2 separate regions of the Homo sapiens genome follow, and region 2 is linked to region 1. Evidence: fine-mapped expression QTL. Tissue or cell type: pancreas. Region 1 holds a variant in brackets; the other region holds the start of a gene. All regions are shown on one strand. Distances are between the middles of the regions.

Region 1 (5,224 bases):
AACCTTCTGCTCTGGCCACACCCAGTCCCCAACTTCCCAAGACATTATAATGATCCGTTTTTGTGCATTTTCCCAAGTAAACCAGGGACTCAGACTTTCCAAGTAGCCCATAGGAGGGCAGCGACCAGGTTTTGTGTCCCCAGTTTGTAGCACAATACTTGGCACACACACACAGTAGGTGCTTAATCAATGCTCAGGCATGGCCGGGCGCGATGGCTCACGCCTGTAATCCCAGCACTTTGGGAGGCCAAGGCGGGCGGATCATGAGATCAGGAGATCGAGACCATCCTGGCCAGCACAGTGAAACGCCATCTCTACTAAAAATACAAAAAATTAGCTGGGCGTGGTGGCGGGGGCCTGTAATCCCAGCTACTTGGGAGGCTGAGGCAGGAGAATTGCTTGAATCCGGGAGGCAGAGGTTGCAGTGAGCTGAGATCACACCACTGCACTCCAGCCTGGGCGACAGAGCGAGACTCCATCTCAAAAAATAAATAAATAAAATAAAATAAAAATTAAAATAAAAATAAATAAATAAATGCCCAGGCACAGGTGTAGGACTTTGGTTCCCAGGGCATTAACTCAATTCCTGGGACACACAGTAGGTGCTCTGTAAGTGCCCACTGGATTAACAAGGCTGAGCAATCTGACACTGGCAGAAGCTTGGGGCAAGGTGAGGCATAGGGCGTGGAGGTAGGAACAAATGGAAGATGCTTCCTGGGAAAAAAGATGGTGTCAGAGGGAAGAAGGCAGAAGGGATCTTGGGAAAATTCCCAGAAGACTGGAAATACAAAAAGCAAAAATAAAAAGTAAACACCGATAGATGGAGGTAAACAGGACTCTCAGTGAACAAGGAGAGAGAAATTCAGAAGGAAAGATAAACAAAGAAGAATGAACTCAGAGAAAGAAGAAGGTCAGAAAGACAAAATGTGCCCATGAGAGCCATATTGGACAGATTGCCAGAGACCAGGACAGACCAACTAAATACATTACGTCTGGGGTCCCTGCTTCATCCCCTGGGGGTAGGCAGATAAGGCTGGCACGGGCAGTGTGGTGCTGTGGTCCCTTCCTTGGGTGATAGGGCTGAGTGAAAGCCCACACATCATCAGGACATCCTGGAAAACTTTTCCTCTCTTAGCTCAGGAGAGGCCCTGTGATAGGAAACAAAGTACCCCAGACAGCAACTACAAACCTAGTTTCTTGCCCTTAGGCAAGCAACTTAGCTGCTCTTGCTTCAGTTTTCCCAGCAGGAAAGCGAGTCTGATTCTTACTTTAGAGGCATATTAAGATCATACTGAGTTAAGGCAGGTACATTAAATGTACACAGCCTGATATAAGTGCCAGGGATTGACATAATGGTGGTGCTTTCTCCCAAAGGCCTGCTGTAAACGGGTCCTAAGAGAGGCCGTGTCACTGTCACTGGGTGCTGCAGATAGACCTGACTTCAGAGCCCTGGAACCCAGGCTCAGCCCCTGGTTTTTGGATCCCAGAGCCAAATCAATACAACCAGGAAGTTTATTCCTGGGTGAAGGGTGAGGGGCAGCAGGCATGCCAGCCAGCCAAGAGACACACGGAGCCCACAGCCAGCAGGCCTGACTGTCCAACTCCACTGCTGAGACTGTCCTCTGGGGCCTTGCTAGTATCCAGATTTCAGCCTGTCGAATGGGCTAAAAACAATTTTCTAGCTGTCAGATCACACCTCAAGGCATGCAGGAGCTCCAAGGAGGCAGAGTTCTCCTTCATTTGAAGGGAGAAGGGAGTAAGACTCTGAGGCTTGAGAAATGGAGAATTTGCATTTTAGTTACATAATCTGAGCAATCTTGAAGACTATTTTGAAGTGCTGGCTTTGGCCAGGTGTGATGGTTCACACCTGTAATCCCAGCTACTTGGGACGTTTACTCAGGAGGCTGAGGTGGGAGGACTGCTTGAGCCCCAGAGGTTGAGGCAGCAGTGAGCCATGATCTCCCCACTGTACTCCAGCTTGGGCAACAGGGTGAGACCTTGTCTCAGAAAAAAAAAAAAAAAGGTGCTGGCTTTGATGTCAGACAGACCTGAGTGTGAATCTCAGCTGAGCTCTGTTATTTTTCTGAGCCTCAGTTTCCTTAACTGTCAAAGAC[G/A]GCTAACAATAGCACCCACACCCCAGAATTGTTGTGAGGAGTAAATGGGATCCTGTAAATAAAGACCTGAACCTCAACCTTGGGTCTAGTAGTGAGTCTCCTGTGCCACAGTCTTTGGGTTCCAAACGCTGTTGGGGGTTGGTGTGCAGAGATAGTTCTCCATATAAGCAATCAAGATTAGCCATCAATGTGAATAATAATATCCCATGCTCCTGGGGGAGAAAGGCCAGATCATAAACGTATTGATCTCTCAATATCTAAGCCACTTTGAGGAGATTAAACTGGTCACAACTCAGAAAATCATTGAGAAATCATCAAGTGTCAAATTCCATTAGGAATGTGTGACTCCTGGGGGTGAGAGGATGGGTAGATCCCCCTCCCTGCCGCGAGGCCCCCACCTCTGCCTCTGTTCTCTGTGACTGACAAGGAAGGATCTGTGATTACCAGGTCTGCCGAGCTCTTGGAGGCAACTTACATAGTGCTGTCACTTGTCTAGCTGGGCTCAGGAATATTGCTAAAAGGCTTGGGAAACAAGGCTGGCAAGGGGAGAGGGATCAGCCTCAAGGGTCCAGAGAAACTCCAGACCTGGTGTGGAGACTCCACAGCTTTAGAGGCAGTTTCAAGGCTGGGTGATGGGAGAGAGAAAGGACTGGGGGCTTCACCCTTCTGGAGTCTAACTTCTCCAGGGTCTCTCTGCACCCCACCTTCCCACCCCCAGCAAGAGTTTAGAACCTAAAGACGGGGAGTGGGAAGCAGGAGACTCATTTCTTGATCCATGGGGAGTTGGGGAGCCCAAGTGGAAGATGGGGAGATGAGAGCAGGGGTAACTGACAGCAGGATGCCACAGCTAAAGAAGGAAGTATAAATATAAAGCGGCCAGTGTAGGACTGGACAGAGGCCATATGAAACACACGGTACATTCCGGTCCCAGCGTAACAAACTGTACCAGCCTTTTTGAGAGCTGTGAGCACTAAAATGGGGAGGGAAGAGAGCAGAGGTTCCTTCGAGGTTGGCCCTGCCTCCTCCTCCCCCACTTCTCCCACAGCTCGGGGCACCGCAGGGAAAGTCCTGATGTTCCTTTTGCAACCACAGGAAACCTACCATCCCTGCTCACACTCTGTACCCTGTTCCTCTCAGCAGCTCCAGACTGGGAGGGAGCAATGAGTGTGTATGCATGGGGGTGTTTGGGGGAATGTAGGGTGCAGACAGCCCCAGCAGCCCAGGTGACACCCGGAAAGGCGGCAAGCATCACTTGGATACTGACTGGAAGTCACAGCCTGTAAGGGCTGCAAGAGAGGTACAGATGACGGTGAGGAAGTGCCTTGTCCAAGGTCACACAGGCAGTTGTTCACCAGGGTGGGACCAGAGTGCATCCAGAACTAGGCAGTGCTGGGCAGCTCTCTTGGGTGTAGTACGTAGGAGTGGCAGGCCAGAGAACAGGCAGTGCCCAGGGACTGAGGGTGGGGAGCCCAGATCCAAGGCTGCCTCTATGCTCTGGTTGGCTTTGGGAAGGCAGGCCTGGCTTGGGCACTGTGCCCTCCAAGCCTCCCAATCCTATCCCCCCAACCTTAAATATTAGAGATAATGCATGTGAAGTGCCTAGCGTGGAGGTTGTTTTGTGGTGATGTCAAGCAGAATGAGTCACGTCCACCCCTCCCATCTCCTCCTCCTCCACACACACACACACACACACACACACACACACACACACACACACAGCTCAAGGCCTAGAACCTCCTGGGATCTTTCTCCCATATCTTTCTCCCTAGAACCACCTTCTTTCTTCTGAGTCCCTATAGCTATTACACACATTTGGTACTCACCACCTGCTGGCTTGGGTTATTATTTAACCTAACATCCAGCGTGTTTGTCTCTTCAATTGCCCAAGGGGAGGATATCATTTCAATACACCCAATATTTATTGAACATGAACTCCGGTGCCAAGCCTGGCCTGTGGGGGATGAGTTGGAATGGTGGTGGGAGGCGGGGGCAGTGGAGGAGAGGGCTCAAAGAAGAAGCAGACTTTGTTTCTGCCTCAAGGACTTTCTAATCTGGTTAGAAGAACAGGATTAGTAAACAGATCGCTAGAATATGAGACAGGCCACACGCTGTGCCGTGAGAAAGGTACAAACTGAGTGTGCTGGGCGTTCAGAGGAGACAGGAATCAGATTTGGCTGGCACTGTTTCAAGGAAGCTTTATGAGCTGGAGCAGCAGAGATGGGTAGACAGGGAGGACAGGCACTCCTGGCATGAGAAATGGCACAGCAAACTGTGGAGGTGGGAAGGAGGGAGAACAAAGGACTTCAGGACTGTGTCTTAACCTCATGGTGACATTCTTTAGCAGGACCCAATACAGAGCCTTCCACACGGTAAACGTGCGATATAAATGCTTTGTTCCCTCCTTGGTTTGGAGAGGGTGGGATCTTTAGGACCAGCACTTAGTGATGTCTTTCCACAGAAGGATGGGTAAGGAGAAAACGTGGCTCTGAATAAACCAGGGGTTTGGAGCTAAACACAGGGAAGGGTCAGATTCCAGGGGCAGTTTGGGGTCGTCTTCCTTGGCCTTGCCCTTCTTTCACCCTGTCGTCCACACCCACTCGCCAGTGTCTGGGCTCTCCCTACTCCCGGCGTCGTGCCAGGGATTTCCCAAACCGTCCAAAAGGGCTGGGCTTGGTTTGCCAGCCCCGGGAATCCCTGGAGTCTCCGTGTTCCAGGCTTCTGTGAAGGATCAGGGAAGGGGGGCTAGGAAAGGGGAGGCTCCTCCTGGGGATTGCTTGAATTGGCCCCCTCAACACGGGCTTCCGTTGTCACGTGACTGCGTCCCAGGTCTCGCAAGTCTGGGGCTGGCGAGCTCCAGCTATCCTCCTCCCGCCCCCCGGACTGAGCGCTGGAGAAGCACGGACTGAGCGCTGGAGAGCGCTGGCGGCAGCCTGGGTGGCTCCTTCTGCTCGTAGAGCTCCCCACACCTGCTCCCTCCCCCAGCTGTGCTAATCCAGGCGCCACCCAAGCCTGGGGTACCCAAGCAGGGGCAAATGGGGGATGGCTAGGTCTGGGTGCTCCAAGGCCGGTGAGTGGGCAGGGCTGCGGGGCCCACGCGCGCCCCGGAGGTT
Region 2 (5,000 bases), 56 kb after region 1:
TTCCTCTGCCTCAGCCTCTGGAGTAGCTGGGATTACAGGCATGTGCTAATTTTTATATTATTAGTCCATGACCATGTTGGCCAGGCTAGTCTCAAACTCCTGACCTCAGGTGATCCACCCGCCTCGGCCTTCCAAAGCGCTGGGATTACAGGGGTGAGCCACCGCGCATGGCCTAAAGGGTCTTTTTATTATCACCACTTGATCTGCTCTATCTCATTTAGTCCTCACAACAACCCTATGAGGGGGGTTACTATTACTGTCCCCATTTGACAGATGAGGAAACCGAGCTGGAGAGGTTCATTGACTTGCTGAAGGTCACGCAGTTATAAGCTGTAGAGACAGCCCAGGTCTGTCTTACTCCAGGCCTGGTACTCTTGGTTCTGGTCCCCAAGAAGTTTAAGTCCCCATCCTTCCTGCATCCTGGTGACTCCCGATTCTCATACCCACTCCCTGCAGACCAAGGGAGCTACCAACATCATCTGCCCTTGCCGGATGGGCTTGACGTGCATATCCAAGGACTTGATGTGTTCCCGCCGGTGCCATATGATTTAGAGGAAGATGCAGGCTGGTCACTGCTCCCTTGGGGCCATAGGCCCTGGTTGCCACCAACTTGCTCCAAATCCAGCTCCTGAGACATTAAAGTCACTTCCTGTCCTTGGCCTCTGTCTGTACTTTCTGGGCGAGGGGACCTGGTGGAGATTGTACCAGTCCAGGGGGCAGGCAAAAGGGGAGACTGGAGGCATGAATGAGCTTCTAATGGGATTTGGCCCTGTCCGGAGGTCAGGGTAGAACTGCAGGAAGGGAATGGCACAGGGAGGGTGTGGTGGAGCAGGGGCTGGGTCTGGGAAAGGGCTGATTCTCTGGTTGGAGGGCTGTGTGGGAGAGACGGGATTGAGGAATGTACCTGGAGAGTGTATGTTGGGGTGCCTATGGAGGGGTGTGTGGTAGGGAGAGACTAGGTGGAGGTATCTGAATGTTTTGCGGGGCGGGTTGTGGGGCACAAAAGGGTAGAGATCATTAGAGAGTTGGTGAGAATGTGCAAAGTATAAATGCAGAAATGCCTGTGGTGGGAAAGGGACCTGGTGCATGGATGCCTCCGCTCTCTCAGGTATTGTCGGTTCACTGCATGGACAAAGAAACTGAGGCCCAGAGAAGCGACATGACTTGCCCTAGGTCATATCATTGGGGTAGCAGTGAGGCCTCTTTCTGCTGCAAGTATCTTAAAAACCAACTCAAATTGGTCTAGGTGAGGAGGGGATTTACTGGTGATGGGAAATGAAAGTCCAGAGGTCAGGCAACCCTTAGGTAGGGCCAGAGCCAGCAGCTCTCAGGCTGAATTCCTTCCCAGTAGTCACAAACATTCCAGGTGTCACCTAATAACAGGTAGGATTTATTGAGCACTTCCTATGTGCCAGACACTGTGCAAAGTGCTTTCTTTTTCATTTAATTAAAAAATTTAAGACAGCACCCAGGCTGGAGTGCAGTGGCTCGATCGCAGCGTACTGCAGCCTCAACCCCCTGGGCTCAAAAGATCCTCCCACGTCAGCCTCCCAAGTAACTGGGACTACAGGTGTGTGACACCATGCCCGGCCAATTTTTTTTCTTTTTCTTTTTCTTTTTTTTTTTTTAATAGAGACAGGGCCTCACTGTATTGCCCTGGCTGGTCTCAAACTCCTGGGCTCAAGTGATCCTCCTGCCTCAGCCTCCCAAAGTGCTGGGATTACAAGCATGAGCCACTGCGCCTGGCCCAAAGTGCTTTCTTAACTGTATTGACTCATCTTTTTGTCACAACAGGGCTATAGTAGGTGTTATAATTATCCCTATTTTACAAACAGGGTATCGAGGCTCCTAAAGTAAGGGTTGGAACTGAGACTTGAACCCAGACAATCCTGCCCCAGAGGCCAGGCTCTTAACCACAAATCCACCATGTACATCAATACTGTGCCTTTCAGAGAAAGAAAACATCTCTGTTCCACAATTTTCAGCAAACATCCTAAGATCGGTTCTGATTGGATTGGCTTAGTCTGCCTGAACTAATTATTGTGGTGGAATTTGCTGATTGGCCTAGCCTGAGTATTGTGCAGGATGGGAAAATTCTGACGGGGTTGGGTGCTGGTTTTACATGGTGTTCCCACAGCTGGGAGGACACCCACATGGTCGGCGTGCAGGATATTTCGCTGGACCCTAGAAAAGCCACCACGACCTGTGGGCCATGATGCTACCCCAATGGCTGCTGCTGCTGTTCCTTCTCTTCTTCTTTCTCTTCCTCCTCACCAGGGGCTCACTTTCTCCAACAAAATACAACCTTTTGGTAAGAAAGCTGGAGAGTGCAGTCACCTCCCCCTCCACTGTCCTAAGGCCTGTACTATTTGGGGAGGTGAGCGGGCATGGGGGCTAGTGTGGGAGAAGGCCAGAAGTGGGGGCAGCAGGGAGTGTTGGGTGGAAGATGTCTCGGAGGAAAGAGAGAACAACCTGGTCCTGGAAGCTGTGCCAGGGCAGTGCCAGGTGCTGCTGCCACAGAGGTGAATGTGAGAGAGCCCCCCTGCCCATGCGCACATGTGGTAAGGGAGACAGATATTCACTCATGCAACACATTTTTATTGAGCACCTACTATATGTAAATTATTTTTCTACATTTAGTGATAGGGCTGTGAGCAAGAAAGATAAAAATCCTTGCCCTTGTAGAGCTGTCACTCTAGTGTGTGAGGCAAAGAAGTAAAACATTACAATAGATGCTATTAATAATAGCATCTATCTCAGGTGATAAGCAAGGAAAGGGAAAATAAGAATCGAGCTGTGGGAGTGGTGGTGTGAGAAGGGTTTGCAGGTGTTTTTTTTTTTTTTCTTTTTCTTTTTCTTTTTTTTGGGACAGAGTCTTGCTTTGTCACCCAGGCTGGAGTGCAGTGGGGCAATCTCGGCTCACTGCAAACTTAGCCTCCTGAGTTCAAGCGATTCCCCTGCCTCAGCCTCCCGAGTAGCTGAGATTACAGGCACCCACTGCCACGCCCAGCTAATTTTTTTTTCTGTATTTTTAGTAGAGACAGGGTTTCACCGTATTGGTCAGGCTGGTCTTGAACTCCTGACCTCAAGCAATCCACCCGCCTTGGCCTCCCAAAGTGCTAGGATTACAGGCGTAAGCCACCGCACCTGGCCAGGGTTTGCAGTTTTAAATGGGGTGCTCAGGGAAGAGTTTACTAAGAATGTGAAATTTTAGCAAAGACCTAAAGGGAGGGAAGTCCTTCCTAACCGGCAAAGCAGGGGGGTCTCTGGGAGAAGAGCATTCAAGGTGGAGGGAACAGCCAGGGCAAAGGTCTGGGGGCGGAAATGTGCTGGCATATTCAAGGAATAGCAAAGAGGAGTAAGAGAGAGTGGAAATCATGGGAGATGAGCTCAGAGAGATAAATGGAACACAGTTACAATATTCTCATTTATTCAACAGTTATGCATTCAGCACCTGCAATGTGTAAGGACTTTAGTCCAAGGGGGCTAAGAAATATAGCAGTGAACGTGAGAGCAGAAGATCCATGTCCCAGAGCTGAGGTTGCTAGCGGGGGAAATAAATTATTTTTAAACATATAAATAAGATGATTTCAGAGAGTCATAAGTGTTGTGAACAAAGTACAACCAGGTGATGGGGACTGCTCTGCTGGTGTCCAGGAAGTCTTCAGCCTGAGGCAGGAGGGGGAGGCAGCCGGGCAAAGAGTGCAGGACAGGGTGCTCTGGGCAGAGGGCCAGCAAGCGCAAATGCCCTGGGGCCAGGCCAGGTGTGGATTCAGAGCCCCAGTGATGGCTTTGAATCCAGAGAATGGCATTGTGGGAATTATCTTTTAAAAAAGACTCCTCTAGCTATTCTGGGAAGAACTGACTTGAGGAGGTTGGGGAGGTGGAAGTGAGAGTGGGGATGGTGAGGGGGTACCTGGGGGAGGTCACTGGCAAGGATGGAAGCAGGGAGGCCGGGAGGCGGCTATAGCCAATCCTCCTTTCCTGCCTTATTTTCTTTATAGCACATAATCGTACATAATAGGATTATACATATATAATATAAATATTACTTATTGTTATGTATATAACATATGTGGTAAAAATCACACCTTACTAGGTGCTCAGATCTTGAGTTTACATGGAAATCAATGGATTCGAACCTATGCAGACCCCCTCATCACTACCGTCAGAACAAGATATAGGACATTTTCATTACCCCAAAAGCCTCACTCTTACTCTCCTAGTCAATAGCACCAAAGGCAACTGTCTCCTGACTTCCATTATTATAGATTAGTTTTGAACTTTGTATGATGAAATCACACAGTATGTACTTTTAAAAAAAAATTTGGGCCAGGCGCAGTGGCTCACGCCTGTAATCCTAACACTTTGGAAGGCCGAGGCAAGTGGATCACCTGACGTCAAGAGTTCGAGAACAGCCTGACCAACATGGTGAAAGCCCATCTCTACTAAAAATACAAAATTAGCTGGGTGTGGTGGCACATGCCTATAATCCCAGCTACTTGGGAGGCTGAGGCAGGAGAATTGCTTGAACCCGGGAGGCAGAGGTTGAACTAAGCCAAGAAAGTGCCATTGCACTCCAGCCTGGGCAGTAGAGTGAGACTTTGTCTCAAAAAAAAAAAGGGGGGCTGGGCGCGGTGGCTCATGCCTGTAATCCCAGCATTTTGGGAGGCCGAGGCAGGCAGATCACGAGGTCAGGAGATCAAGACCATCCTGGCTAACACAGTGAAACCCTGTCTCTACTAAAAATACAAAAAAAATTAGCTGTGCGTGGTGGCGGGTGCCTGTAATCCCAGCTACTCAGGAGGCTGAGGCAGGAGAATGGCGTGAACCTGGGAGGCACAGCTTGCAGTGAGCCGAGATCGCACCACTGCATTCCAGCCTGGGCGACGGCGAGACTCTATCTCCAAAAAAAAAAAAAAAAAAAAATCTGACTTATTTTGCTCAACGTTTTTTCTGTGATACCGTATCATTTCACTTATGTATCTCTTCCCTGTCTT

What was found. PIP is the estimated chance that this variant, and not a neighbour inherited with it, causes the effect.
Region 2: it holds the start of CLPSL1, and the variant in region 1 is the best candidate, but not a certain one, in a credible set for the expression of CLPSL1 in pancreas (GTEx, PIP 0.61).

What each region holds. Positions count from the first base shown.
Region 1 is chr6:35,722,751-35,727,974 of GRCh38, forward strand. LOC285847 (a long non-coding RNA gene) reads right to left here. Exons shown (of 10, transcript NR_027117.2): 10 at 4,012-4,383. It also overlaps a transcript of FKBP5 not described here. Among named protein-coding and RNA genes, the nearest start is that of ARMC12, 12 kb to the right of the region's middle. RefSeq lists silencers at 3,092-3,268, 5,174-5,224. The variant G/A (reference allele first, on the strand shown) is at 2,115.
Region 2 is chr6:35,778,899-35,783,898 of GRCh38, forward strand. CLPSL1 (colipase like 1) reads left to right here and starts at 2,121. Exons shown (of 3, transcript NM_001010886.5): 1 at 2,121-2,311. The coding sequence starts at 2,213. CLPSL2 (colipase like 2) reads left to right here. Exons shown (of 3, transcript NM_207409.4): 3 at 457-654. The coding sequence ends at 552. RefSeq lists an enhancer at 3,232-3,733.